7 linked regions of the Homo sapiens genome follow. The protein of the gene in region 5 interacts with the protein of the main gene of each other region in a pairwise test. Each region holds a gene or a part of one and is shown on either strand. Other genes may lie near its edges.

Region 1 (4,450 bases), on a different chromosome or scaffold from region 5:
TAGCTTTCAAAATCCATATTGGGTTTGACCACATCATTTTCAGTAATCCTTTTTTGTCAGCTTTTTGGAAGCTGCAGTTAGTGGTTCTCTCTGAGTTTGAGGTAGTGGTATTTTATTATTAAACAATTTTTTCCAAATATTTTTTAAACTACTTTCCTTTTCAGACCAGATGAGGTAGTGTTAAAAATGATATCTTCTCCAACAAGTAAAGGCTTGATTAATTAGGTTGAGTCTTTAAAATATCTAGTGTTTGTGTGTGTATAAATTTTACTTTAATTGAGAAGTATTGATAAAAATCATAATCGTCACCATTTGAGCCCCTGCCATTGAGCAGGCATTGTGAGGTAGGAGTGAGCATCATTTTACAGGAGAGAAAACAAAGCCAAGAGATGGCACGACTCTGGTACAGCTGTCGTGCATAAGTTACTGATGATCTTTCAATCCATGTACCATTTTGTTAACAGTGGAAAAGGAATTCTCAGCTATCCTACAGGGTTGTGCTAGTTAAATGAGATACTGTATGTGAAGAGCAACAAGTAAACTCTTAACGGGCTCCCTAACCCAGCACATTTTAACATAAACACTTGTAGACTCTGGAAGCAGTGTGGTGAAGTGGTTAAGTTCAAGCGTCTTGGGAGTCTGGCAGGCCTGGGTGTAAATACTGAACCTGCTGCCTGACCTCTCTGAGCCTGGTTTCCACATGTGTAAAATCAGGATAATACTGTCTGTCTTATATTCAAGAAATGTACCCACTAATTGCAGTGGGTGCTGAGTAAAGATTGGCATCCACTCCTTTCCCTTGCACACAGGTACTTGGGTCAATGGGATTGAGTAAGTCTTTCAGCAGTTGTCCTCAGGGGGAAAAGGCTTAAAGTACTTTTTGTACTTATCAATGATTCTTCTAGCCTTTTTGCCTTCCCACCCTAAGCCCCAGCACGCGCAATGAATATTCCAGGGCCTGTGATTGTCTTGTCCAAGGGAATTGAAAAAATCGTAAGCCAGAAAGGACAGGTCTTTGATAGAAAGTTGAAAATGGATGTAGCTGGTTTCCCTTTGCCCATTTTGTGGCCTTCCTCCTTTTTTTTTTTTTTAAATTAATTTTGTTGGACAGGGAAAAGATACAGAATTCAGGGGGTTCTAGCTGGAAGGGGGCCCTGGAAGAGCCTATAGTATAGGGCAGCTAGAGAGAGGAGTGGGCTGGCTGACGGTCAAAGCTAGTTTGGTGTGGGGGAAATTTCTGTTAGATGCAGGATTTGGCTTAATATGGGACCAATTTCCATCTAGTCCTTTAAGGCCCTCTTTTGGGACTCTGAAGTTTTTGTGCTCCAGGCAGATTTTGACTGGTTGTGGTGGCATCACAAATGAGTTTCCATAGTAAATTGTATGCTGAAAGGAAATTAAATTCCAAGAGGGTGTTTGTTGTGACTGATGCCAGAATTTCCTCTGAGAATTTTATTAACATTCAGTCTGTGAAAGTACTTCTTAGTTCTCTGAAGATAATAATTAGGAAATAGTTTTTAAAAAGTAGAAGTGTCGTCTTTGTGAGCTTTTGAAATGTCATCTTCCTAAATCTTTGGAGCAAATGAGGCTCAAAACATCATAGAGACTTATATTTTAAAAGCATTTCTTCCTAAATGTACTGTTTTCCTTCTCTTCCTGTTCCTTCCGTCCTCCTACATTATTTTGATAATGAGTTAATTTTGGTTTCTTTCACATTGTGGTGGCCTAATTTTTAAATTTATGACCCTTCATTTTTAGATCTTGCATGTATTTTTTTTTTTTTACCCTTGAGTCAATTCTCATTGATTATGAAGAGCTGGTATAGCAAGATGGGAAAGAGAGAGGACCCTGGAGCTAGGTTGGTGAGATCTAGGCTCTTTAGAACTTGGATTCGGTCCTCACAGTAGCTCTGGGAGGCTGATCATGCTATTCCCAACACACAGATGTGGAAATGGGTGCAGAAACACATGTGTGTTCACATAGCCAGCAAGTGGTTTATCTAAGTGTCACTGCAATGATCTGTAGGACTCCAAAGCCCATGCTTCCAGCTGGAAAGGCAGGCAGGGGCCTTGCATGCTGTGCCAGGGTTGGGACTTAGTCCTGTAGGCAGAGAGGGTCAGGCCTGTATTCTAGAAAGGTAGCTCGGTGGCTGTCTGGAGTTTTGAAGTGAAGCAAGTAGAAATTAGGTGTAGAGAAACTAGTTCATTAAAGTAATGTCTTGAGAGATGAGGGCCTGAACAGAAGACATTAAGACAGTGGCAGTGGTTGCGGAGAAGAGGGGGCTTGTTGGAATCCATAGAGCTTAGTGCCTTTGGATACTAGAATTGCATCATCCCTTCCCATTTCAGGTCTGATGCCCCAGGGATGGGTGTTGGAGATGCTGACTATGTGCAGGCTAAAAGCAATCTCTGCAGAAACCAAAAGTGCCTCCTTTGGTCTCTGCTAACAGCTAGAGAAAGGTGGCTGAGCACAGTCCGAAAGGGCCTTCCCTTCCCTGTGCCACCCCAGCCTTATCATTCCTAACTTTCCAGGAGCATCGCAGAGAATGAAGTTGGATTCCTCAGACTGCATTTTGGGAAATGCTAGTCAAGGTTAGAAGTGTGGAAGGGAAGACGCCTTCCTGGGGTATTGTCTGCACACCCCTCTTCCCTGGTGGCACAGGGGACCCACCAGGGTTTGGTCCTCAGTTTTGGCTATTCCATAAGAGTTGATCTGCCCTAGATGGGGTTAACTTGTGGTCACCAAACTTGCAGGGGTTGACTGGGAAGCAGGAGTGGCAGTGAACATAATGGCCAGCCCCAAGAGGAGTCGAGGCCAGCCTCCTCTGACGGGTGCAGTCTCTGCGGGGCGCCAAGCCATGCTCAGGGAAGCGGGCATCAGAGCCCAAGGAGATGATTGGCTGGGGTCTGCATGTCCTGTCATCGGTAGGACGCACTGTTGCCATGTCAGGAATATACTGGTTTTGTGCCCTTTCCCCTAGTCAGTGCCAGACGTGGTCATAAACTTGCTTTTGGGCTTCCGTTTTTCCAAATTGTGCAACATCCCTGCCCTTCTGAGAGTTTGTGCTGGCTCTGGTCAGGCCGGAGGTCAGGTGGTCAGATTCTGGCTTTATTTGGGCTGTGTTCTCGCTGCGAGGAGGAAGCCAGGTTACCTCTGTTGGACCTGCCTGCTCCCAGCATCTCCAGCAACAAGCTGTCTCTGCCGGTGAGTCACTCCGTGCAAGAGTCTGCTCACCCACTTTCTGCTTGATGTTTACACTTTTCCCTCAAAGAGGGAACCTCTTCTTGTTCTGAGGGCACTTCTCGGCAGTCCCCTAGAGTGTCCAGTTGTTTCTTTTGTGGGGTAAGAACCCGTGCCAGACAGGTACATGTTTTAATGGGAGAAGAGCATTTCTGCCTGTGGATATGAGCTGTCATGCCTACCTCTTGAACATTATGTCCTGAGCAAAGCCCTTTTCTCGTTCTTTTTGCTTCGTGTTTAGGTGCGTGTTTGGGTGTGTTTGCTTTAATTATTACTGGGAAGCAAAAAAGATATTTATCAAAGGTTTAAATCTATAGCAGTGCCCCTGCAAGCAGAAAGAAGAAGTATATATTTAGCCAGGATATCATTGATTTATCACCCTTTTTTCCATTTTGTTCCTGTTTTGTTGGCAGGACCATCTGATTTGTATACTGGTTCAGTTTGGATTTCAGTAGTGAGTGTGAAAAGATTCCTGGGCTGTTTGCCGAAGTGGAGGGACTCAAATGCGTGGGCTTCAGGGCTGCCAGTCTTGGCTGTCCCTGCAATCCCAGGAGCCTGGCACATGGTGCCTTTGTCAGGAAGGTGGAGTTTGGCCAGGCCGTTTCTTTGGCTTTGCCTGGGAGCAGCTCTGCTGGTGACAGTGGAGGCCTCCCTCTGCCGTGGGAAAGGGAATTCTCTCTTGATTCCGGTTTTGGCTTATTTCTCATCCTATAGGGATGAGAGGGAGGAAGGCCCCAGAACTAGTGAGTTTTGGTGATGAGCAGGTTCAGGGTAGGACTGGTTTGCAGCTTCCACAGAGCTTTTACAGATGTTTTCCTTGCATCCCACATTTTCCTTCTTCCTTGTTAGTCCCAATTCAGTCTGTCATCAGTACTGCAGAAATTGGCTTGAACTTTGTCAGTCTTGGGAAGACCTGGAAGTGCAGCATAGAAACCTGTTCAAATTGGTGCAGCAATTTCACATCAGCATAAGTAGCTTGTTTTGGTGGTGGTGGTTTTTTAATCAGTTTAGGTGCTTTTTTTCTGAAATCATATAGGTAATATGTAAATGTATTCTCCTGCAGCCTGCCCTTGCATTTAAATAGTGCAGAAGGACACAGCAGACTTGTCACATTCCCCTTCACCCAGCACCCCTCCCCAGGTGCCAGCTCCTCCAGGTCCTCAGAGATAACTGGTGTTAGCAGTTGGATCCGTGTCCTGAAACTGTCAAG
Region 2 (4,450 bases), on a different chromosome or scaffold from region 5:
CAACAAAGGAAGGCTTAACCCCACTCCCCTAGCCCCGGCCTCATCCCACCCTGGGCATTTGGCAGGACATGCAGTACCCCGAGTCCTCCCCACGGTGGCCCAGCCTCACCTGCAGCAGGCTCGCTAGCAGCCTCCGCTGTGGCCCCCGGATGGTGGCTGAAGCCTTCGGGACAGCAACCCACAGAGCCCAGCACGGGCCCAGGCTCAGCGGCAGGGCCAGGGCAAACACACTGGCCCTGAGCTGCCGCCTCCTCTTCCTCTCTCGGGCTTCCCGATCTGCAACAGACACCAAAATCCCACATGGCTCCTGGAAGCCAGACCTTGTCAGATCAGATAGCTGCGTGGGAAGAACTGGTGTCAGCTCCCCACATGATGCTGAAGCGGGTTCCCACATTATTCTGCAGGCCAGCTCCTCCCCACCCTTCAGGGCCCTGTAGTTGTGCCACCTCTTCAAGGAGTCTTTCCTCTCCACCACTGACTGCACACCCCACCCCCATAACGTGCTGCCCTCCTTCCTCAGGCAGAGATGACATTATCTTCTCTCTATGCATCTGCGTGCAGACAGCAGTGCCTCTTCTGGACTAGAGCGCCTAAGGATAAGGCACCATCCTCTGGTGGTTTCTACAATCTCCACAGAGCAGAACCGGTACAAGTGTGGTACAAGCATCGACCCGTGAATCAGCGATGGCACCAGCGGGAACTGTGCGCGGGACAAACAGCAATGAGCAGTGTCTTTGTCCCTGAACTGTAAGATAGGCACTCCTCTGAGCAATTCTGTTTATTTTTTCTTTTTGAGATGAGGTCTCATTAGGTTGCCCAGGCTGGACTTGAACTCCTGGGCTCAAGCGATCTCCCACCTTGGCCTCATGAGTGGCTGGGATTCCGGGTGTAAGCCACTGCCCAGCTCTCTCCTGAGAAACTCTAAGAAGAGCATTTCTCTTCTGGGCAGCATTGAGCCGCTGAGGGCATGCTTCACTACACACTGCTGCAGCACCCCCTCTGATTCATTTATTATTTTTGAGACAGGGTCTCGCTGTCACCCAGGCTGGAGTGCAGTGGCACAATCACAGCTCACTGCAGCCTCCACCTCCTGGGCTCAAGTGATCCTCCCACCTCAGTCTCCCAAACAGCTGGGACCACAGGCATGCACCATCATGCCCAGCTACTTTTTAAAATGTTTGTAGAGATAGGGTCTTGCTATGTTGCCCAGGCTGGCCTCAAACTTTTGGCCTCAAGCAATCTTCCCAACTCAGCCTCCCGAAGTGCTGGGATTACAGGCATGAGCCACCACACCACTTGGTTCATCCCCTTTTTTTTTTTGAGACAGAGTTTTGCTCTTGTTGCCCACGTTGGAGTGCAGTTGTGCGATCTGCAACCTCCAGTTCCCGGGTTTAAGCAATTCTCCTGCTTCAGCCTCCCAAATAGCTGGGATTATAGGTGCATGCCACCACATCCAGCTAATTTTTGTATTTTTTTAGTAGAGACAGGGTTTCACCATGTTGGCCAGGCTGGTCTCGAACTCCTGACCTCAAAATGATCTGCTTGCCTCAGCCTCCCAAAGTGCTGGGATTACAGGTGTGGGCCACCATGCCCGGCCCCCTCATCCCCTCTTTTTGAACAAGGGCCCAAGCACATGGCTGACCCTTCTCAAGAAGCCGCAACCACAGACACTCGGGGCCACTCATCCTGGCCCAGTCATTTCCGACCCCTGCTGTGCCTGTGGTGGTGCCCTGTGCCCATTCCTGGCATCCACTTCCAGTAGCTGTGAAGCTTCGCTTGACCACCCCGAACTTGCACACTAAGCTATCACTGCTCATGCCCATGCCCTGCTCCACACCTCCTCCTAGCCTTTGCCCATGCTGCTCTGTGTGCCTGGAGTGCCCTGCCTGTGGCCCCAGCTCTAGTGCCCCATGCTTCCTTGACACCAGCAGCCCTTCCCTCCCTCTGGCTGCCCACAGTGTGCACACACCTCCAAGCTGGCAGCCCTAATGAGACACTCTCCTTCTTTTTTGGGGGGGGGGGGTTGTTTTTGTTTTTTGTTTTTTTTGAGACGGAGTCTCGCTCTGTCACCAGGTTTGTTGAGACGGACTCTTGCTCTGTCGCCAGGCTGGAATGCAGTGGTGCGATCTCAGCTCACTGCAACCTCCGCCTCCTGGGTTCAAGCGATTCTCCTGCCTCAGCTTCCCGAGTAGCTGGAATTACAGGCGCACGCCACCACACCCGGCTAGTTTTTGTATTTTCAGTAGAGACAGGGGTTTCACCATGTTGGCCAGGATGGTCTGGATCTCCTGACCTCATGATCTGCCCACCTCAGCCTCCCAAAGTGCTGGGATTCCAGGCGTGAGCCACCGCGCCCAGCCTTTCTCCTTTGTTTGTGCCTGGCTGGGGCCCGCTCTGGGAGTGATAAGGAGTAGGCATTCGGCGTGCTGATGAATGAATGGGTGAATAAAGACAGGAAAAGACAGCCACACACTCACCTGAATTAGACTTGAATTTGGATCCACAGACTGGGAAGAGAATGAACATAAAGTTCACTAAGTCAATAGCTGCTAGGTAGGCACCAGTGAAAACCTGGGAGCAAACGGGAAGAGAGTCTTGGCATTCAAGCATCTTTCCTCAGCCCCTACAGAGTTTGTCATCCGGGACCCTGTATCACATGGGTTACACTGATGCGGTGCTTTCTTACGTACTCCTCCAGGGACACCTCCTGCCAACCCCGGAAAAGTCCATTATCATGTCCACTTGGCTGATGAGGAGATGAGGTGTTTACATGACTGAACCCACGGTATGCAGATGCCCACCAGCAGGGTTGGGATAAGAGCCCAGCCCTCCAGCTCTATTCCACACACTTCCCACTGCGTGAGGCAGTCTCTGCTGTGTACCCTTGGCCCACTGAGCTTCTCTGGCGCTCAGTTTCCCCATCTGTAAAACGAGCAAACTAACAGTGCTTCCCTCAAAGACTGTCAGGAAGGTTACTTGAGACAGTACATGGGCAGTGTTTACACCAGTGTCTATGGGAAAGCAAACTACCTCTAAAGGCACCAGCTCCTCTGATAGTAGAGTTAGCGGTGAAGAACTTGCATTGTGGAGTTTGAATCGCGGAATCTTGGCACTGCTACTTACTAGATGGGTGACCCTTAACCTCTCTATGCTTCAGTCTCTACATCTGTAGAACAGGAATAATGAGGACACTCATGTCATAGGATGCTGGGATTCCAGGAGTCAACACAAAACGGTCTGTAGTGCCAAGTATGTAGTTAAGTTTTTTTTTTTTTTTTTTTTGAGACGGAGTCTCGCTCTGTCACCCAGGCTGGAGTGCAGTGGCGTGATCTCGGCTCACTGCAAGCTCCACCTCCTGGGTTCACGCCATTCTCCTGCCTCAGCCTCCCGAGCAGCTGGGACTTCAGGCGCCTGCCACCACGCCCGGCTAATTTTTTTTTGTATTTTTAGTAGAGACAGGGTAGTTTTTAATAAATATTATTATTGGACTTGAGCTGGGACCTACTGTATTTTTTTTTTTTTGAGACGAAGTCTTGCTGTTGCCCAGGCTGGAGTGCAGTGGCACGATCTCGGCTTACTGCAACCTCCGCCTCCCAGGTTCAAGTGATTCTCCTGCCTCAGCCCGCTGAGTAGCTGGGACTACAGGCACGCGCCACCACGCCCAGCTAGTTTTCTCCATGTTGGCCAGGCTGGTCTTGATCTCCTGACCTCAGGCAATCTGCCCGCCTTAGCCTCCCAAAGTGCTGGGATTGCAGGCATGAACCACTGTGCCCAGCTGGCCCTATTGTATTCTATTAGCTAATGAGAATGGGCACCCAAAATGAAAGGTGATTTGCTTTTGAGACAACACTGCTTGAAGCAGGGTCTAGAATGCTCCAAATCTGTGCTCTGCCAACTGAGCTGCCTTCCTTCATTTCTACCTGGATGGGCATAAGACCAAGACCAGTCCCATGAGGTGCCTCCGCAGGAGGGCACAACAGGTTTTCCTGGGGATATGTGTTTTGGGATAGGAGCCTTCCACACAGGTTTGAGGGCCTACGCTTTTGAGAAACTTGAAACTACTTCTCACTTGCCCCAAAGCCTACACCACTACCTGGGAAAGGACTCAGCCACCCTACATAAGCTGGGGCTGGGTCAAAGCTCTAAATGACTATGTATTGGGCACCTACTAGGAGCCAGGTGCTGTTTTAAGTGATGGGGATACAGCAGTGAACAAATCCTTGCCCTTGTAGAGCTGACACTCTAATGGGAGTTCACATACAAGAAGTAATAAACAGGTCAGGCGTGGTGGCTCAGGCCTGTAATCCTAGCACATTGGGAGGCTGAGGCAGGCAGATTGTCCTGAGGTCAGGAGTTCGAGACCAGCCTGGGCAACATGGTGAAACCCCATCTCTATTAAAAATACAAAAAATTAGCCAGTGTGGTGGCGTGCGCCTGTAATCCCAGTTAC
Region 3 (4,450 bases), on a different chromosome or scaffold from region 5:
AATTAAAGCAGAAATCAAGATGTTCTTCAAAACTAATAAGAACAAATATACAACATACCAGAATCCCTGGGACACAGCTAAGACAGTTTTAAGAGGGAAATTTATAGCATTAAATACCCACATCAAAAAGTTAGAAAGATCCGAAATTAACAACCTAACATTACAACTGAAGGAATTAGAGGAGCAAGAACAAATCAACCCCAAAGCTAGCAGAAGACCAGAAATAATCAAAATCAGAGCTGAACTGAAGGAAAATGAGAAAATGAGACACAAAAAACCACTCAAAAGATCAACAAATCCAGGATCTAATTTTTGAAAAAATTTATAAGCTATATATGCCACTAGCTACCAGCTAGACTAATAAATAAGAAAAGAGAGAAGGTCCAAATAAACAGGATTGGAAATAATGAAGGGAATGTTAATGCTGACCCCTCAGAAATAAAAATAACCATCAGAAACTACTATGAACACCTCTAAAGACACAAACTAGAAAACCTAGAAGAGATGGATAAATTCCTGGACCCATACATCTCCCAAGACTGAATCAGGAAGAAATTGATTCCCTGAACAGACCAATAACAAGTTCCTAAACTGAATTAGTAATAAAGAGCCTACAAACAACAAACAAACAAACAAAGCCCAGGATCTTATGGATTCACAGCCAAATTCTACCAGATGTACAAAGAAGAGCTTGTACCATTCCTACTGAAACTATTCCAAAAATTTGAGGAGGGAGGGATCCTCTCCAACTCATTCTATGAGGCCAGTATCAATCTGATATGAAAACCTGACAGAGACCCAACAAAAAAAGAAAACTTCAGGCCAATATCCTTTATGAACATTGATGCAAAAATTCTCAACAAAATACTGGCAAACCGAATCCAGCAGCTCACCAAAAAGCAAATCCACCATGATCAAGTAAGCATCATCTCCAGGACGCAAGATTGATTCAACATACACAAATCAATAAAAGTGATTCATCACATAAACAGGACTAAAGACAAAAACCACATGATTATCTCAGGAGATGGAGAAAAGGTTTTCAATATAATTCAACACCACAATAACGTAGGTATTGAAGGAAAATACCTCAAAATAATGAGAGCCATCTATGACAAACCCATAGCCAACATTATACTGAATGGGCAAAAGCTGGAAGCATTCTCTTTGAAAACTGGCACAAGACAAGGATGCTGTCTCTCACCACTCCTATTCAACTTAATATTGGAAGTCCTGGCCAGAGCAATCAGGCAAGAGAAATAAATAAAGGGCATCCAAATAGGAAGAGAGGGAGTCAAACTATCCCTCTTTGATTATGACATAATTCTATATCTAGAAAACCCCATAGTCTCAGCCCAAAAGCTCCCTCAGCTGATGAATAGCTTCAGCAAAGTTTCAGCATACAAAATCAATGTACAAAAATCACTAGCCTTCCTCTACACCAATGACAGCTAAGTCCAGAGCTGAATCGAATAGGCAATACCATTCACAATTGCCACAAAAAGAATAAAATACCTAGGAATACAGCTAACCAGGGAGGTGAAACATTCCTACAATGAGAATTACAAAACACTGCTCAAAGAAATTGTGTCAGAGAAGACACAAACTAATGGAAAACATCCCATGCTCATCGATAGGAAGAATCAATATCACTAAAATGGTTATATTGCCCAAAGCAATTTATAGATTCATTGCTATTCCTATCAAACTAGCAACAACATTTTTCACACCACTAGAAAAAAACTATTTTAAAATTCATATGGAATAAAAAAGAGCCTGAACAGCCAAGGCAATCTTAAGCAAAAAGAACAAAACTGGAGGCATCATGTTACCTGATTTCAAACTACACTACAGGGATGCAGTAACCCAAAGAGCATGGTACTGGTATAAAAACAGGCCTAGACCAACAGAACACAACAGAGAGCCCAGAAATAAGGCTGCACATCCACCACCATCTAATCTTCAACAAAGCTGACAAAAACAAGCAATGGGGAAAAGATTCCCTATTAAATCAATGGTGCTGGGATAACTGGCTAACCATATGCAGATTGAAGCTGGATCCCTTCCTTACACCATGTATAAAAATCAACTCAAGATTAAGATTAAAGACTTAAATGTAAAACTGAAAACTATAAAAACCCTAGAAGACAGCCTAGGCAATACATCCTGGACATAGGCAAAGATTTTATAACAAAGATGCCTAAAACAATTGCAACAAAAGCAAAAATTGACAAGTGGAATCTAATTAAACTTAAGAGCTTGTGCACAGCAAAAGGAACTATCAACAGAGTAAACAGACAACCTACAGAATAGAAGAAAATATTTGCAAATTATGCGTCCAACACCGGTCTAATATCCAGCATTTAAAAGGAATGTAAACAAATTTACAAGAGAAAAACAAACAATGCATTAAAAAGTGGGCAAAGGACATGAACAGATGCATTTCAAAAGAAGATAGACATGTGGCCAACAAGCAAGTGAAAAAAAGCTCAGTATCACTGATCATTAAAGAAACACACACACAAAAAAACCCACCATGAGATATCATCTCATACCAGTTAGAATGGCTATTATTAAAAAGTAAAAAAAAAAAAAACCAGATGCTTGCGAGGTTGAGGAGAAAAGGGAACACTTATACATTGTTGATGGGAGTGTAAATTAGTTCAACCACTGTGGAAAGCAATATGGTGATTCCTCAAAGAGCTAAAAGCAGAACTACCATTCAACCCAGCAATCCCATTACTGGATATACACTCAGAGGAATATAAATCATTCCACCAGAAAGACACACATGCACTTGAATGTTTGTAGCAGCACTATTCACAATAGCAAAGACATGGAATCAACCTAAATGCCCATCAATAACAGATTGGATTAAAAATTGTGGTACAGGGCCGGGCATGGTGGCTCACACCTGTAATCCCAGCACCTTGGGAGGCCGCGGTGGGCAGATCACTTCGGGTCAGGAGTTCGAGACCAGCCTGTGCAACATGGTGAAACCCCATCTCTACTAAAAATACAAAAATTAGCTGGGCATGGTGACAGAGGGAGACTCTGTCTCAAAACAAACAAACAAACAAAAACTGTGGTACATATACACCATGGAATACTACACAGCCATAAAAAAGAATGAGATCATGTCTTTTGCGGGAACATGGGTGGAGCTGTAGGCTATTATCCTTAGCAAACTAACACAGGAATAGAAACCCAAATACTACATGTTCTCACTTATAATGGGAGGTAAATGATGAGAACTCATGAACACAAAGAAGAGAACAAGAGACACTGGGGTCTACTTGAGAGTGGGGGTGGAGGTTGGGAGGAAGGAGAGGAACAGAAAGATAATATTGGGTACTAGGCTTAATACCTGGTGATGAAGTAATCTGTACAACAAACCCCCATGGCATGAGTTTACCTATGCAACAAACCTTCACATGTACCCCTGAACCCAAAATAAAAGTTAAAAAAGAAAAGAAAAGAAGACACTATGGGTCATACATTGACACACAAACTTTTTTTTTTGGACAGAGTCTTGCTCTGTCTCCCAGGCTGGAGTTCAATGTCTCAATCTTGGCTTACTGCAACCTCCGCCTCCCGGGTTCAAGCGATTCTCCTGCCTCGACCTCTCGAGTAGCTGGAATTACAGGCGCCTGCCACTGGGCCCAGCTAATTTTTGTATTTTTTAGTAGAGAGAGGGTTTCGCAATGTTGGCCAGGCTGGTCTCGAACTCCTGACCTCAGGTGATCCACCCGCCTCAGCCTCCCAAAGTGCTGGGATTACAGACGTGAGTCACCATGCCCGGGCCGACACATAAGCTTTTTATGGGAAGTAAAACTATGGCTAGTTTCCTAAGCAGAGTTGATTGTTTTAAAAGGGTAAAGGCCCCGCGCTGGCGGGCGCTCCTCCCTGAGCGGCGGGAAGCAGGCGGCAGCGGCGGTGGCGTCGGCTGAGCAGAGGACCCAGCGGGCAGACTCGCGGGTCGGACAGGATCGTCGTGACAAAGGCTTCGACAGCTTGCTGGAATAGAGGATCTCTGCTGCCTCGCCTCTTCTGTGGCCTTCGTGTGGGATGCACGAGACGGCAGGACCCAGATAACCGTTCTCTCAAAGACACAATGTTTGCACGAGGACTGAAGGGGAAACGTGTTGGCCACCAGGAAGACGTGGAGGGAGCCCTGGCCGGCTTGAAGACCGTGTCCTCGTACAGCTTGCAGCGGCAGTCCCTCTTGGACATGTCCCTGGTGAAGCTGCAGCTTTGCCACATGCTTGTGGAGCCCAACCTGTGCCGCTCAATCCTCATTGCCACGTGGTCCGGCAGATCCAAGAGGAGATGACGCAGGATGGGATACGGCGCACACCCCAGGCTGCAGGGTGGGCGCCGCTGGACCACTTGGTCTTCATGGAGATTCTGTGCCGCGCGGCGTGGGAGCAGGAGGGGGCACGTCCTGCCT
Region 4 (4,450 bases), on a different chromosome or scaffold from region 5:
GGCAGACCAAATAAAACCCACCATTTGTAAACCAAATCTGGAAAGCAGATTATCAGCATTGTATCTCTGAACTTCCAGATGTCTTGGCCAGTAATACATATGTAACAAAAGAGATTTCTGATAGTAAAAAGATTTCACAAGTTCTTAAACTTTAGTAGTCTATGGAATTTTTTTTTCCCCCAGACAGGGTCTGGCTGTTGCCTAGGCTGGAGAGCAGTAGTGCAATCACGGCTCACTGCAATCTCAAATTCCTGGCCTCAAGTGATCCTTCTGTGTCCACCTCCTGAGTACCTGGGACTATAGGAGCATGCCACCACACTTGGCTAATTTTTTTTTCTATAGGGACAGTGTCTGGCTATGTTGCCCAGGTTGGTCTCCAACTACTGGCCTTAAGCAATCCTCCCACTTCAGCCTCCCAAAGTTTTAGGATTACAGGCATACGTCACTGTGCCTGAGCTGGAATTCTAATACAAATTTTACTCCTATATATTTACACTATATATATCTATATATATAGTGGGAGATGGTGAAGAGCTTCTTTTCATTGTCCTCTTGCCTCAAGTTTAAACTCCTAATAAAACTGCCTGAAGTTGGGCCAGGCGCGGGCTCATACCTGTAATCCCAGCATTTTGGGAGGCCGAGGCAGGCGGATCACAAGGTCAGGAGATCGAGACCACGGTGAAACCCTGTCTCTACTAAAAATATAAAAAATTAGCTGGGCGCAGCAGCGGGTGCCTGTAGTCCCAACTACTCGGGAGGCTGAGGCAGAAGAATGGCATGAACCTGGAAGGCGCGCCACTGCACTCCAGTCTGGGCAACAGAGCAAGACTCCATCTCGGAAAAAAAAAAAGAAAACTGCCTGAAGTTTAAACTTCCAGATTTCAAAAAGGTACAGTACATACAATTGTGAAGAAAAATCTGGCAACAGTGGTTACCCCATGGGTAGAAACTAAGATGGGGGAGAAGCAGAAGGCAAGGGAGTAGTCAAAGGAGGGCTTTTATTCTTTTTGCATATACAGGACTACAGTAATGTCATGATTACAGTCTATGTTCGTAGAATTCTCTAGGATAGTCCAGAGTACAAACATTTTGTTCTCTATAAAGATTCTTGTGGTTATAAGCAAACATAATTTAAACCCATGACTGCTGTTCAACCACTGGAAAAGCTCTTTGAATTGCTATTGCAAAAAAAGGATTATACTGATAAAAACAGTGAACTGCCCAGTTATGCAAGTATAAGCTACTTTGTTTTTATACATTGTTTCATCTTAATCTTCTAAGGTCCTTCTTAGAAAACAGATATGATTCTTCTCTGCCTTTTACCTCCCAAAGGTAAGTTTAGTCATTAGCCAGGATTTGAACTGCAGATCATGAAAATTTGGTAACAGGCCAGCCGTGGTGGCTCATACCTGTAATCCTAGCACTTTGGGAGGCTGAGGCAGGAGGATCACATGAGGTGAGGAGTTCGAGACCAGGCTGGCCAACATGGCAAAACCCCAACTTTACTAAAAATACAAAAATCAGCTAGGCATGGTGGTACACGTATGTAATTTCAGCTACTTGGGAGGCTGAGGCATGAGAATCACTTGAACCCAGGAGGTGGATGTTGCAGTGAGCCGAGATCGCACCACTGCACTCAAGCCTGGGCAACAGAGCCAGACTGTCTCAAAAAAATAAAAATAAGGCTGGGTGCTGTGGCTCAGGCCTATAATGGCAGCAATTTGGGGGGCCAAGGCAAGATAACCTGATGTCAGGAGTTGGAGACCAGCCCGGCCAACATGGTGAAACCCTGTCTCCACTAAAAAAACAAAAATTAGCTGGGCGTGGTGGCACGCACCTGTAGTCCCAGCTACTCGGGAAGCTGAGGAATGAGAATCACTTAAACCCGGGAGGTGGCGGTTGCAGTGAGCTGAGATCGTGCCACTGCACTCCAGTCTGGGTCACACAGCGAGACTCCATCTCAAAAAATAAAAATAATAAACTATCTTAAAAAATAAAATTTGGTAACATAGGCTACCTATGTATTAACATGAAAAAAAGTCACAATTCTTTCTAGCCTGTCCTGAGGGTTCAAATAAATCCCAGCCCTTAACAAGGAAAGATCAGGTCATTTATTGTGTCCATGAAAAAAATAAACAAGTAGTTAACCCAGGACACTTTTCTTCTACCTACCCCCAAGCCCCACCAATCCCCAGGCACTGACAGCCATCCCTACCCAGTCTCATGTTTACCCTTGAGATAAAATTTGGCTATGGCTGTCCTGACATCAACGTTTCCTTTTGGACCATGACTCAGCTTTTTGGATCCCTTAATTTCCTATGCAAAGGAAAGACAGATGAGCTAAGTTAGATCTCCAGTCATCCTACTAACTGGATGGATCTAATGTCAATGCAACAGCTCCAGTCAGTGAATAGAGAGCTCAGATCCTTCACAGTATACCACCATGCCCCACCCTATCCCACCCCCAAGACAGTAGAGGCTTCTCACTGCTACCTCTAGCAATCTCTCATTGGCTTAATTTTTTCCTTCTATGACACAGGCAAAGGAAGGAATGTCAGTGCTCAAAAAGCTTCAGATTTTAGAGTATTTCAGATGAGGGATAATGATTCCAACCTCTATTTGGGAGGCGGGGTGGGGGGCAATGAAGGAAGCACTAACAGGTAAAACCAACCAGAAAATCATTTGATACAAAATTCCCAATAATTATATTTTTAAAATATTTTTCTTTTTTTATTTTTCAAACATCAACTTGAACCAGAAATCCAATAATTACAAATAAAATTTACACTGTGGCTGGGCATGGTGGCTCATGCTTGTAACCCCAGCACTTTGGGAGACTGAGGCGGGCAGACAACTTGAGGTCAAGGGTGTGAGACCACCCTGGCTAACATGGTGAAATCCCACCTCTACTAAAAAAATACAAAAATTAGCCAGGCGCGGTGGAGCGTGCCTATAATCCCAGCTACACAGGAGGCTGAGGCAGGAGAATTGCTTGAACCCGGGAGGTGGAGGTTGCAGCGAGCCGAGATCGCGCCATGAACTTCAGCCTGGGCAACAGAGTGAGATTCTGTCTCAAAAAACAAAAAAAGTTACACTGTGAATTTTCCAAATGCTTCATTTTATAAATCTGCAAGTAAGAAAAATTTCACTGCCAATTATGCAAATTCCATAACGAACCCCAAAGATCTGAAAGATAGTTTCATAACACCAGGAAATTATGAGGTACCATGTCAATTAACATTTTACTCCATTTTATAGTTAACCAAACTATAAATGTGCTTATCTTTATTCTCAGGATCTGTTTTTTTCTTTTTTGAAAAGGAGTCTTGCTCTGTCATCCAGGCTGGAATGCAGTGGTGCGATCTTGGCTCACTGCAACCTCTACCTCCTGGGTTTCAGCGATTCTCCTGCCTCAGCCTCCCGAGTAGCTGGGACTACAGGCGTGAGCCATAATGCCCAGCTAATTTTTCTATTTTTAGTAGAGATGAGGGTTTCATCACGTTGGCCAGGCTGGTCTCGAACTCCTGACCTCAAGTGATCCACTGGCCTCAGCCTTCCAAAGTGCTGGGATTATAGGTGTGAGCCACTCTGCCCAGCTCAGGATCTGGTTTTAATGGCAATTTTTTGTATATACTCCCATGGCACCCAGACTTCTTTAAAACACATACTAGACTTAGAATTTATTCTTTGTCATCTTCCCCAACTAGGCTATTAGCAACATGGGGGTAGGTACTGCTATATCTTTCAGCCTAGAGTTCCTGGCACATAGTAAGTGCTTGGTAACAGAGGTACCAAATAAATCAATCACTGAGTGGTACTGAAATTTTAACTCCTTTAAAAACATTGAGGCTGAGATTCTGGTTAAAAGTCTATTCAGAGAAGCTGCTGGATAGAATGTCACAACAGGAGGCCGGGTGCGGTGGCTCACACCTGTAATCCCAGCACTTTGGGAGGCCAAGGCAGCAGGTGGATCACAAGGTCAGGACTTCAAGACCAGCCTGACCAAGATGGTGAAACCCCACCTCTACTAAAAATACAAAAATTAGCCAGATGTGGTTGCGTGCGCCTGTAGTCCTAGCTACTCAGGAGGCTGAGGCAAGAGAATTGCGTGAACCCGGGAGGTGGAGGTTGCAGTGAGCCAAGATCATGCCACTGCACTCCAGCCTGGGCCACAGAGTGAGACTCCGTCTTAAAAAAAAAAAAAAAAAGAATGTCACAACAGGTACTGGATGGCCTGTTTGGAGGCCTAATTCTAGACCCTATCTCCTATCTCTTACTCCCTTTCCCTACATTGCACTAGGGATTTCTCAGTTCTGCCAAACTTGGGAAGAAGTGTAAGATAGAGGCCTCTCCATCTCCTGAGATGTCCACTTCCCTGTTACTGTGCTCAACCCCCTGGGCATAGAACTGGAGTTCCCAAAGATGTTTCTGATTCAGGAATGTGAATCTG
Region 5 (4,450 bases):
ATGGAGGACAGAGTTAAAAAGCAGAGGGAAAAAGAATTTTCATTGCAAGTTTGCCTGAATAGAGATCATAATAATGGTAGAAAGTGAGAGAAATTATAAAATTTCCTAGAGCAAGCAAAAAATAAGAACAGATTCAGAAGCTGTAAAGGAGAAAAGACAGTTAACACAGATGAGAGAATCAATGTGTGATTCGAGCTGAAGGCTGGTTACCCTGGGATTTAATTTGACAGGGTTAGTATTAGATGAATCAGGTTCAGGGAAAGTCAGTTTACTCACCTGGAAAATGGGGATAATAACGGTACCGAGCCCAATGGAATATGAGGACTAAATGTGATAATACATATAAAACACTGGACACAGTGCCTGACACTTAGTAAGCATCCAATAAATGTTCACTATTATTACTGGGCAATAAAATGGTATTTATTGAATAAATAAGTAGGCTATGTTGCATTATAAAAAGGTCACTGTTGGGAAGGAGAAAGATCTTGATCCTATTCCAACTCTGTTACTTTCTAGCTATGTAGCTTTGAGTCTATTTCTTCATCTATAGATGGTTAAATAATATCTAACTTATAGAGATGATCTGAAAATTAAATATAAGGTGTATCAAATACAGTACTACAGCATCTTAAAATGGTCCTATACTAAATGCTCAATAAATGGTAGTGAGTTTCATCATGTGCAGACGATATCTGGTTTCAAATTCCTGACCTCAATGATCCACCCGCCTCGGCCTCCCAAAGTGCTGGGATTACAGGCGTGAGCCACCATGCCCAAGTGCAGGTGATGTCCAAATTCATGACTTCAGAAAATGGCCTATTCATAAAAGCCAGTTCATAAGGGAAAAGGAGACAATTTCAAGGGAGAAAATATATCTCGAGAGAGAGAGCTGAAGAATGTTGCCTCGTTTCCTGGAAGCCAAGATCAGAATACAAGTAGTTTCCTTCTCTCCTTGTTTCCAATTTTGCTGGGCTTCTCAGAAAAAGTAGTCATAAAACTTAATCTGGGAGTTCCAAGTTCAACCATCCACCCAATGCTGCCAATGAACTCAAAGCTTTAAGAAAATTGAAATGGTGTTTCCCTTTAGCAAAAAAGATGGAAGATACCATTAGAGTGTGTGAGTGTGTGAGTTAATGGGAACTTTAGCCAAAATCTTCCCTTGACTCTAACAGTTCTATAAGTTGAATAGCCACTGGGTAAAATACGGTTAGTCCTGAATGAATTTCATTATCCTTTCACTAACAAGTTTCTAGCTCTTGTATTATGCAATTTGGCAAATACTTTCATAATTCACTTTGAATACACTTTTTTTAAACAATCCTACACCGTCATATGGAAGTTAACCATCTTCTCAGGCTAAATATCGCATTTTGTATTCTACATATATTCACATATTTGTGTATGTATATAGTATATGAATAAATATCACTTTGTAGTTTAATCTCATACACCAGCCTTTATAGCACCTTTGAATATTTAGATGTCTTTCTTTAGATGATCTTTGGTAATATTATGACTTTGTTCAGATTTAGTATTCTAAACAGTGATACTCTGTAGATAACAATAAAAGAAAAGGTAAAATAAAAGAGAAACACAGATTACAGGCCTGATTATTTCTTTCTTGCTTGGCTAGTGTGACGGGAAGACAAGAGCACTGGGCTAGGGACAAAACAACCCATGCACATTCATTTGCACTATAGTGACCACCTACAAAAGTTACGTAACTTCTGTAAATCTCAAAGACTTCTAAATATATGGAAAAAATGCCTTCAAGGCCTATCTCCCAGAGTTATTGTGAAGTTGTTTGTAAAACCATAAAGCAAAATACAAAGCTAAAGTTTTCTTTCTTGTTATTTGCTACTTTCTAGCCACTCGGATTTTTTTTAAGCCAACAGCTATATAGTCTCTTTATAAAGTCATTTTACTTTAAATTGAAAAAATAAAGAAGAATTGACTGTTTTACCATTGAGCACTAAAGAGATCATTTCTACAGGTGCTAATGTATTAATTTTATAATATATGAAATTCTTGCATTGCGGTAAAAAGAAAAGCACATAACATAAAATATACCATCTTAATCATTTTTAAGTGTACAGTCCAGTATCATTAAGCATATCCACATTGTTGTGACTCTCTGGAACTTTTCTATCTTGAAAAACTGAAACTCTATACCTATTAAACAAGTCATCAGTTCTCCTTCTCCCCAGGCCCTAGCAAACATCTTTCTACTTTCTGTTTCTATTAATTTGACTACTTTATTTATTTATTTATTTATTTATTTATTTATTTATTGGGCCAGGATCTTACTCTGTCACCCAGGCTGGAGTGCAGTGGCACAATTATGGTTCACTGAAGCCTTCACCTCCCAGGTTCAAGTGATCCTTCTCCCTCAGCCTTCTCAATAGCTGAGACTAGAGGCATATGGCACCAGGCCTGGCTAATTTTTAATATTTTTTTGTTGCTCATGTTGGTCTTGAACTCCTGGGCTCAAGTGATCCTTGAGCCTCCACCTCCCAAAGTGCTAGCATTATAGGCATGAGCCACTGGGCCCAGCCCGAATTTGACTACAGTAGAGGGTCCATATAAGTGGAACCATAATGCCACATACATAATTATCTTTTTGTGACTAGACTATTTCACTTAGTAACAAGGTTCATCTATGTTGTAGCACATGTCAGAATTTCTTTCCTTTTTAAGACTGAATAATATTCCATTGTATGTATATACCACGTTGCGTTTATCCATTTATCCAACACTGGACATCTGGGTCGTTTCCACCTCTTAACTACTGTGAATAATGCTGCTATGTACGTGTGTGAAAAAATATATAAAATTAGTTAAAAACACACATCTGTGCTCAAGTTTTTGTTTGATAAGTGAATAAAAATGAAAACAGAAAAGCTTGTTTCTTGGAATTCTGCAGTTCAAAATCACAAATGCTTTTATGTGATTATACCTGACAGTGAGTAACTGATTTCCTCAGTGGACTAATGCATTTGTCTTTCAAATTCCAAAAATTTTACTCTAATACAATATAATCATAAATAAAACATCATTCTAAGGTATTTGTTTACAAATGGTAATATTTCATGAAGAAAAATATATGGCAAAAGATTTTAAAAATTTGTATTTTGATTAGTTAAGGAACATACTTATACCAAAACCATTTAGTTTCTTTTGTTTTCTCTTCTGTAAGACCTACACATTTTTATCAATTTTACAAAAATCTTAAGCCATACTTCCAAACTTAAGTAAAAAATGCTCATATATAAAGTGTTTATAATAGAAAATCATTTGTAATGATGTATGTTAAAATTTCACATTTTCTATTGGAAAAATATGAAGACTGAGTTTAGACTGATATCTAGGCTGCTGTTTTAGGAGATGTTATAAGGATTCAATAAACTAAGCCTTAAAGGTTATGTAGTTCAACCCTCTCACAGCACAGGTAGAAATAAGAGACCCAAAGAGTCATGAATAACTTGCCTAAAACGACATAATATGCCATCCTCAAAAGCTGAGTATCACAAAATAAATGTAATATATAATTGAGATAATTTTATTCTTTAATATTATTGCTACTGTTTTCGATAAAATAGTTGGCTCTTGGTTATTCAAGGAATCCAGATAATTAAACAGGTATAGTGTTACAGCAACAAAAGCAATGTTATTTCAAAACAGACGCTTAAATATCTGTATACTTTTGTTGCTCTATTCCTCTACCTATTTCTTATAAAGCAAATTTTAAAAAGTAAAAAGAACTAAATAAGAATCTGTTATTTGTACTATTTAGGCAGTGTTGATAACAGTTTTGCTGGAAAAAAATTTTATTTACTATAAAGAATGAGGTTTCTGAATCCCTGATAAATGTATATTTATTTGAAATTGCTTTACCTATTCCAAGAATAAAGAAAGTGATATCTATATCTAGACTTTTAGAGTCAGGTAGGACCTTACAGATTACCTAATTTAACCCTCTTAATTTACAGAGAACAATGCTGAGAATTGGGAAGGCAAAGGAACTTGTCCAAACTCTCATAGCAAATCAGCAGCAGACCAGGACTAAAACCTAGGTCATCTAAATCCCAGTCCAGAATTCTTCCCATTCACTATACCACACTGCCCTCCTCACTTCCACACAAGGCAATGCTTCTGCACAGACAATGAAGAGAACAATCATATCTGATTTTATATGTCTTGGAATCTTCATTTTTTATCTGTTTTGTGCTTCTAAATGACTTAATGGCCTGATTTACTCATTAAATTTAGTGAACGGCAACTGAATTAATGACCAACTCATAAAAAATATCATTCTTTTAAAGAACTCTCTGGCCGGGCACAGTGGGTCGTGCCTGTAATCCCAGCACTTTGTGGGGCTGAGGTGGGCAGATCACATGACACCAGGAGTTTAAGAGCAGCCAGGGCAACATGGTGAAATCCCCACTCT
Region 6 (4,450 bases), on a different chromosome or scaffold from region 5:
GAACTAATGTGGACTGGCGGGAGGCAGTCTGGGGCGGTAACCCCGTATCTGAAATACTCCAGGGATCCATGTTTCTTTCAATAGTCAGATTAAGCATTCCCCAATCCAATCCCCAGATATCTTTGAACAAAATCAATAAAAATCAGTAAAAACAGGAATATATATATATATATATATATATATATATATAGACACACACACACACACACACACACATGCATATACACACACATGCATGGAGGACCATACTAAGGCCTTTTTCAGGTCAAAAAGGGTTTTCACATTGACCTTTTTTACTTTTAAGTATTTTTCCTCAGAATGTTCCTTCAGTTAAAAATCAGGTTTAATCTGGAGCTCTTACTGATTTTTCTTTGATTCCTACTGAACACCTAGCTACTGGCCATGGTTTCTTTGAGGAAAAAAACACCATTGCTGAAGCATTTCTAAACATTTTTAATGCATGCAGAAAGAACTACATAGACTCTCCAAGCAGCTATATAAGGTGGCTCAAGTAACATTATGATTTATTTTGGTCTAAGCCCTTTCATAACGTCCTTTTAAAATACAAAGAGAATGGCTACGAAATGGTGCCAGAACCCAGAAGGCCCAGCTGGACTGACAGGAGCTCTGAGCAGTTCATAGGACAAGCAGGGACCCGCCGAACCTCTCCCGTTTCTGTGCTTTCTCTAAATGCAGCAGGTCCTCTCTTTACTGCCCATGCTTTTAAACTATGAAAAAAAATTTTTTAAAGAAATCTAGCAGTGATTAATGGAGACCTCAAATAACACTGTACATGGGCTTTGTTAGAGACAGGTAATCATTCTTAACAGCTCTTTTCCCAGAGGAGGCCTGGGTGGGCCGAGAGGCATCCAGAGTTTAGGAAGTGCTTTTATTGCAGACTGCACCTTGGCTAATACTATCCTCTATGTACTGGCTGCCTGTGTCACTCCTGCTGAGGACTGTGGAGGGGATGCGAGAGGGACGCCTCTCTGGGTTCTCCTGAGAGAAGCAGCAGATCATCTTCTTCATGGTGCCATACATGTCCTCGTCCTTGTAGGAGTAGATGATGGGGTTCACGACGGAGTTGAGCAGCGCCAGCAGCAGGAACCACCTTTTCACATGCTGCACGCCACACTGCCTGCAGTTCAGGCCGTCGAGGAGCAGAACCACCAGGCCCGGGGTCCAGCATACCACAAACGCCCCTGCAAGGAGAGAAGAGGAGGCAACAGATGCTCAGACCTTAGGGGACTTATTCAGGTTTTCTTCTCTCCCAGCCTTTAGCCAGTGGCATCAAGGGGCCCTCATGATTTGTTTTGACAACTGCAAGGCAAACTTCCACCTACCATCTGAGCATTTGAGACCTACGCTTGGTACAGGCAAATAGGTGGGAACCTCCTTGACTATCAATCACATTTCATTTCACTTTCTTTTCTGCTTACCCAGGTCTTGTGATTATGAGAGACTCACATTTACATTCTGCTTAGGAGGCAGTGCACATGCATGATCTCCGTTAGTTCTCTGAACCACACTGGGAGGCTTTGTTGCACTCATTATCCACATTGGACAGATAAGAAAACCAAGGCCCAATTCTAGGGGGAGATGAGAGGAGAACTCTCTGACTCCAGGGCTCCCATACTTCACCCTACATTCTGCTGTTACAGAAATCAGATTTTCTAAATGTGCTCTTGAAAATAAGACACAATGAGTCTACGGCATTCTTCTAGTAGTTTAACCAAATCACCTGCTCATAAATTTCATTCTTCATAAATTCATGTGGATGCTTAGTAAGCACTATATTCTTTTTGACATATTCACGGGCCATCTGCATAATCATCTGCTCTACATTTAGATTTTTTGGTCAGAAATAAATCTTTCATGATGAGATAGTTAAAAATCTACTTTTCAGACTCTGCAATTGAATATGAACCGTAGTCTCTTCTGAGTCTCTAGCCACAGCATCATACTTACCTTATCTCTAAATTTCATGATATTTTTCTCCCATTAAGACATGGGTCCACTATTTCCCTACTATTATCATAACCTCAGATAGCAATAACGACTCATCTTTATACAGCACTTACTATAAGCGAGGCACTGGTGCAAACGCTTTCCTTGATTAACTCACAGGACCACACTATGACATTGGCATTATTATTATCCCCAGGAAACCGAGGCACAAGAGAAGTTAAGTAACTTGCCTATGATCAAATAACTCTTAAGAGACACGATTTTGAACAGAGGCCGTCTTTCTCCACAGGCTGTGCCCTGGGCCACTATATGACCCGCCTCTGTAGTATGATGTGGTTGCTTTCGGCGAATGTCCTTGTCATTTCTAAATGCACTTGCTTGTCCACTCATAAATATTCATCTGAAGCTAACAATGTGCCAGGAGCTGTACTAGACAGTGAGTGAGGTGAAGGCCACGCACTCAGGGAGCTAAAATACTAACAGAGAAGACGACAAACAAGCAAGTCTATAGATGATATCACCAACTACTCTACTTGTTAGAATTAGTTCTGCATAGTATTTCTCTTGTTGCTTTATCTTACTTCTAAGAGATATAATACCAAGCAGGGAAAGACAAGGATTATAAAGAGGCAGTGTAAGGCAGGGAAGAGCCACGAACTTTGGGGTCAGACATGTATGCACAGCTCAACCTATGAGTGACCCGAATTATGGGAATTACTTCACTTTTCTCAGCCTCCATTCCCTCCTTTATACAATAAAGTTAATAAACCCAACTATGTGAGGTGGTAGTTGTGAGGATCAGAGGTCATGGAAAGTGGTACCCAACACTGTGGTGGGTTCACTGAGCAGCAGTTATCATGAGGTGCTCTGTTTCCACAAAAAATATCTATATGTTTAGTAGCTAGCAGGGGGGTTGAATTCCTTATTTCATAATTACGGTTCAGCAGTGGTTCCCTTTTTTCTCCACCTTGTATTATTATTTTCGGTCTGGCTGATATATGTGAATAAAGAACTGGACTTGGAGATAAGAGATCAGAGATTTGGGTTCTAATTCTTCACTTACTGTACAACTCTGGGAGACCCATGTCATTGCGCTGGGCTCAGCTTCCTCAGCTGTAAACTGAGGACTGACTTTAGGCTAGGTCTGAGTTTTTCTAGTGGTGGGTCAGAACTTGTTAGTGGGTGTGCAATCAATGTGACAGATTCAGACTGGTTTTTTGTTTTATTCAGACTGGTTTGAAACAAGTGAAGGAACTGGATGGGCAGCCAAGTTTGCAACTACCAACTTGAGAATTCATATTAGTAAGTTTTTAGCCATACCACCCGATAATTGTGTCTGAGAAACAAACAAGTCAAATTTGTTTGAGTTTTATGGAGAGTTAAAAGCCACAGTTTCACAGAATTCGGCAGTTTCCTACTTGGAAAAGAGTTCAGAAGCCGCTTAGCCTGATCTTTCATTCATAGGAAAAAGGCCTTCCCTTTGTACATCTCAGAACAATCCAGGCAAAGGAAATGCCCTGGTCAAGGGAGGCTCTTCAACTGCTGAACAATGGTTTCTTCTCTTAAATAACTTCATTTAGGCTGGGCGTGGTGGCTCACATCTATAATTCCAGCACTTTGGGAGGCTGAGGTGGGTGGATCACCCAGGTCAGGAGTTCGAGACCAGCCTGGCCAACATGGTGAAACCCTGTCTCTACTAAAATGCAAAAAATTAGCTGGGCATGGTGGCAGGCACCTGTAGTCCCAGCTGCTTGGAAGACTGAGGCAGGAGGATTGTTTGAACCCAGGAGGCGAAGTTGCAGTGAACCGAGATTGTGCCACTGCACTCCAGCCTGGGCAATAGAGCAAGACTCCATCTCCAAAAAAGTAAAAAGCAAAAAAATATATAAATATCTTCATTTACTTGAAAAGAAGGCTTGCATCCAAACTCTGCCTGTTGTACTCTTCCATTTGTTTTGTGTGATCCTCTGCAATAGCCCAGGAAAAGTCTGTGCTTTCTCTATGTGATGCCCTTCAGGTTTTTGAAGACAGTTAACGCTTTCTGTCTTTCTTTAGCCTTTTCTCCAGGAGACACATATTGAATTTTATCTACTAGTTCCCAGATGCGTACCTCTGGACACTCATTCATATTTGTTAATGCTGAGAATTTTTTTTTTAAAGTAATCTGGGCATCACACAAACTCTTCTTTGAACCCTGCTGGTTCCCAGCAGTCATAGTCTGAGCATTGAGGCTAAATACTCAAAAGACATTCCTTTTAGTTTTTTTCTTCTGGATTTATGTAGATTGGTAGGCAACTAAGTGATAAATATTTTCCAGGATCTATCACACACACACACACACACACACACACACACCCCTCACTTTTAAGAATTAGTCCAGTTACCTGTTTGAATGTTCCTGACATCTCCACATTCTCTATGAATTCTCCAAGACTACAGAGCCTAGGGTGTGGAGGTGCGTGGGGAGGACTTATGTTTAACT
Region 7 (4,450 bases), on a different chromosome or scaffold from region 5:
ACACAAACTCAAACACACTATGTTTCTTAAATCATTTACTTCTTTTCCCATGATACTTTCCCTAAAATAATGATGCAGGGGATGGCAGAGCAGAGATTTTGAGAGAATCCATTTTCCATCTCTGGCAACTTGGACAAATCTGATATCTTTCACTCTCATCTACTAAACACCATGACTTAACTAACAAAATTGGTAGCAGAATTGGCTGGAATCTAGATTTCCTAATGTCTCTCTACTTTCTTTTGCCCAAGTACCTTATGGTACAAACTGCTTTCAGAAGAAATACTTAAGCAAGAAATGTAAATGCAAATTCCCCAAATGAGGTTAAGTTTGTAAGTGTGACAAACCTAGTGGCTGGGAACAGGAAGGAAAGTAGTGGCTGAACTGTGGTATTAGCATTTGAAATTTTCCTTCCTAAAATGTAAGTTTATGGCAAAAGTGCTGACATTAAAGGGGCAGAAGGACAAGACAGCAGGTGCAGCCCTGTTACTCTTCATAGTGGAGGTACAATGAAACCTCAGTTAAGTTCTCCTGCCCCAGCCCAAATGCACAACACACGCCAGGGAATTCCATCTAGGTCTGGCACCCAGTCTGGAGGCTTGAAAAGTGGCATCCTGAGTAGGGGGAAAAGTGTGAGTAGCTTCCTTTTCCCTTCCCCAGCATGTGACATGTGGACCCAGTCACACCACTCACTGGCTCTGGGACCCTGGGCTCACTGGTTTTCTTTCTTCATCTCAGTGAGTGTCCTCATCTCCCCATAACAGGCACAATGCCAAACATCTCTCTCCCAAAGTTGCTCTACAGAACCCTGGGATTACAGGATGTACCTAGCACATTAGCAGACATTCAATAAACAACAGTTTCCCTTCCCTCTGTTCTATCCTGAAAAGACATGTATGCTCTTCCATGTCCCAAAAAGCTTCTACTGGCAGCCAGACTATACTATAGAAGAAAAGAAACAAAGAACTAGAAAAGTTGTTGAGAAAACGTTTTCTCTTCTGAATTTAAATGAAAGAAAAATGCATGAGGACCAGTACATACAGCAGAGTGATACAATTTAATTTGTTTTTTATTTGGACTATTTTTTGCCTTTTCTCTTGGAGAATGATAACCCTGGGAAACTAAGAATCACTGCCTTCATGACTTCACTTTTAATGTGAACGATGTAATAGTGAGACATCAGTATATAAACACTGAAGCCTTACTACAACAGTGCCCCTCTAACTGTGCAACAGGATTCTATAATTGTCCAGCAAGTTTCACAAGGCCATTCTAACACTTCCGTAAAGCGCAACCTCATCCTTCAACCTCCCGCTCTTGGATGGAAGCCAAGAAGGACATATATTATGTTGCAAGATATTCATTCATATATGTTAAGTATGAGACACCAAATGGGTATTTAAAAAGCAATTTTCTCCTTCAATCAGAATTATCTTCTACCACATGATTATGGTTTCCTTTTATTACTTTATTATTAAAAACAGTATTAATCTATTGGTCTTGGTCATTAGAAAACACTAAAGTGCTATCCATTGTGGAAGTATGGCAGCAATAAAGTATTGTGAAATGCTCTACTCTATGCATTACACACTGCCCACCACCAAAAAAATATCTAAAGTAACTAATAGGATACTAATTTTAAGCAAAGAGAGTCTACCTTATAGATGTCTTTAAATATTTATTATTCTAAGGTACTTATAAAAACAAGATACCAAGGAAAAAAGCATTTACAAAAATACAACATGAAGCTTTAAACTTTAATTATTCAAGTTTTTATTACTTCAGAAACAAGACTACAGCACATGCATCAAACCCTTAAAACCAAATGGTGGTGCTCATCATCCAAATAACTTAAAATAACACTTAGATGAGATGGGTTGAAGAAAGAACAAAATTAAGGGGTTAAATGCTTCATCCCTAAGGGAAACAGGATTGTTTTTCAGAATTAAATGTTAAAAGTTTACAGGACAGATAGAATGAGACAGAAGGGAGTACATACGTTATGAGCCCATTTATATTGCATTCTAGAACAGAGATAAATAATTTATGGCAACAGAAAGCAGATCAGTGGTAGCCTGAGGCTGGGGGTGGGGAATGGACTGCAAGAGGACACGAGAGACTCTGGAGGGTGATGGAAATGTTCCACAGCTGGATTGGCAGTGGTCATGTGACTGTACGCATTTGCCTAAACACATCAAGTTGTTCAATTCAAACGGGTCCAGTGTATTATACCTAAATTATATCTCAATAAATATATTTTCTTTTTTAAAAAGGTTTATTGCTCAGACAACGTCCATACTCATTTACCCTATTTCCTTTCTAAGCATTACAGAAACATCCTACACATACCTGAAGCCGTGCCACAGCATGGGGGTACCCACCATGCAGAAGAAAAGATGCTTGCAATCACATCAGGTGGAAAGAGCGTCACATTTCTCTGAATCTGAAGTAAATTTAACACTAATGCAAGAAATACTCCAATAAAAAATAGCACTACTCCTCGAATCATCAAGTTCACACTCTGGCTAGTGACAGATGAAATATATGGGCCACACTTTTTGGGCCCAGGTGACTCTGTCTCTCCTTCTGCCATGGTTTCATAGGTTCAGAAAGCCGTTAAAAAAAAAAAAATGGAAAGGCTTCCCAGCTGAAAAGCTCAACTGTCTGTGAATCAAAGACTGACGCTTCAACGGTACCACATCTTGTCCTAAAGTAGGACCTACCAGAAATCCTGCAAGAGATAAGAAAAAAGAAATTAATGTGTATCTAATACATGATTATTGTAATTTTACTGATTTCAATACTAGTTAATTTAAATGGACAAATAAGAAAATGACAAGCTTGTATACTAATTTATTCAAATTACTAACAGTTATTTATTGAATAAGAAAAAGTTTTAAAAGTATTTTTATATGCAAGACGTAATAAAAAATAAAGTACTACCCTTACATTTCCTAGGACAGAAAACATGACCTAAGAGACCTGAAGGTTAGAATCATAGTAGAAACAGCTTGCTCCATCTCTGAGAAAAGCAGAACAGGTAATCTGACACTTCCACTAGAATCTGGAGGGTAAAACCCTGCTCTCTGTTTCTTCTCCCTAAATCTCTAAGCCTATCAGTTACAATACTGTATTTTATATTTTACAGATAAGCATATTCTGACTGAAGACGCTGTATATTTTGCAATAAAATGTTACTTGCTTACAAGGACAACCTCCACAGAAGAACAAAATAACCCGCTTTAATGTTTATTATTTGGTTATCCGCACAAAAACATTCTACAAAACCAGACCACCACGCACACACCTACATATACACCAAACACAGAAACCAGACCTGACTCACTCTCCCCAGGGGCACAACTGTATCCCACTCCTGTCTCAACAGTCTGCCCTTGTTGCAATCACAGAAGGGATTGTAAGAAAGCTGGAGGACGAAGCAAAAGAAAGGAAGTGAAGAAAATGAAGAACAATCTAATGGCTAGATTCTAAGGAGTTTTATCCACTTGGTCCCTGACTCCTAAAACCTAAAACTTTGCTACTACAATCAGTCTAGGTACTTGTTCATTCCTCTAACCAAAGTGATCTTTCCTTTTGGGGCTTTCTATGTGCTGTTTTAAGCACCTGACATGTGGTAATTCATTTAATCCTCACAATAACCTTCAGAGGTAAGTGCAATTATTATGTACATTTTATAGGTGACGCAAAAAAGCAAAGAAAGGTTAAGTCACTTGACCTAGTTCACATCTCCAGTAAGAGGCCAAGCTGGGATTCAAAACCATGCAGTCTGACTCCAAAGCCCTCATTCTTACCATGATGTTCAGTCTCCCAAACTGTCACATATTTGATATGTTTTCTATGAATACTAACAGTTTTTAAATGGGAAAAATACTACACAGGTAATTTACTTTTATCCCATCCAACAATATATCTTTGGCACTTTCATAAATCGGTACAGAAATGATATTTCCTTCAATCCAAAAGCAGTTTATTTTAAAAAGTGTAGCACTTATAATGACTACTTTCTAATTAAAGGTATAGTTGCTTTATGGATTGTAAATGTTTTATGAAGGTCTTATTCACTATTATATTAATATCACTGTGCCTATGCACCCAGAAAAGTTCCTGCTTAGCCCACAGTGGGAGCTCCACATAATCATATTTGCTTAATTAAATTGGGTTAACTCTTTCTGAATCAAACCATATAGGGTAAAGTAGGCCTTTTTGAGAGCAAACCTAGCTCCTAATCATCACATAAAATTTATACATTTCCTCTGAGTTTTCCAGTATCAAACAACCTTTGAATGAATTTTGGAACAAAGCCCTCATGTAAACCGCAGAGAATGGGGCTGAATTACAAATAACTAGTATGAAAATGAGAATATCTGTAAGTACTAGTAACCTCCACAACCTGTCAGTTCCATGTGATAAACACTTAGACAACGGGCCT

The links.
Region 1: the proteins of ELOVL4 (region 5) and SMCO4 interact in a two-hybrid assay, tested with the Homo sapiens proteins (one large-scale study listed by BioGRID).
Region 2: the proteins of ELOVL4 (region 5) and TMEM44 interact in binary tests that used the Homo sapiens proteins (3 or more experiments, as listed by UniProt).
Region 3: the proteins of ELOVL4 (region 5) and CLCA4 interact in a two-hybrid assay, tested with the Homo sapiens proteins (one large-scale study listed by BioGRID).
Region 4: the proteins of ELOVL4 (region 5) and FAM177A1 interact in binary tests that used the Homo sapiens proteins (3 or more experiments, as listed by UniProt).
Region 6: the proteins of ELOVL4 (region 5) and LPAR3 interact in a two-hybrid assay, tested with the Homo sapiens proteins (one large-scale study listed by BioGRID).
Region 7: the proteins of ELOVL4 (region 5) and INSIG2 interact in a two-hybrid assay, tested with the Homo sapiens proteins (one large-scale study listed by BioGRID).

The regions. Positions count from the first base shown.
Region 1 is NC_000011.10:93,536,600-93,541,049, reverse strand, and holds part of SMCO4 (single-pass membrane and coiled-coil domain-containing protein 4), read left to right. Parts: intron 1-4,450.
Region 2 is NC_000003.12:194,623,420-194,627,869, forward strand, and holds part of TMEM44 (transmembrane protein 44), read right to left. Parts: intron 2,572-4,450; coding exon 2,478-2,571; intron 277-2,477; coding exon 110-276; intron 1-109.
Region 3 is NC_000001.11:86,553,007-86,557,456, reverse strand, and holds part of CLCA4 (calcium-activated chloride channel regulator 4 precursor), read right to left. Parts: intron 1-4,450. UniProt on the Homo sapiens protein: May be involved in mediating calcium-activated chloride conductance.
Region 4 is NC_000014.9:35,048,650-35,053,099, reverse strand, and holds part of FAM177A1 (protein FAM177A1 isoform 1 precursor), read right to left. Parts: intron 1-4,450.
Region 5 is NC_000006.12:79,937,247-79,941,696, forward strand, and holds part of ELOVL4 (very long chain fatty acid elongase 4), read right to left. Parts: intron 1-4,450. UniProt on the Homo sapiens protein: Catalyzes the first and rate-limiting reaction of the four reactions that constitute the long-chain fatty acids elongation cycle.
Region 6 is NC_000001.11:84,812,970-84,817,419, forward strand, and holds part of LPAR3 (lysophosphatidic acid receptor 3), read right to left. Parts: intron 1,203-4,450; coding exon 877-1,202; 3' UTR 1-876. UniProt on the Homo sapiens protein: Receptor for lysophosphatidic acid (LPA), a mediator of diverse cellular activities. May play a role in the development of ovarian cancer. Seems to be coupled to the G(i)/G(o) and G(q) families of heteromeric G proteins.
Region 7 is NC_000002.12:118,094,700-118,099,149, reverse strand, and holds part of INSIG2 (insulin-induced gene 2 protein), read right to left. Parts: intron 2,732-4,450; 5' UTR 2,594-2,731; coding exon 2,350-2,593; intron 1-2,349. UniProt on the Homo sapiens protein: Oxysterol-binding protein that mediates feedback control of cholesterol synthesis by controlling both endoplasmic reticulum to Golgi transport of SCAP and degradation of HMGCR.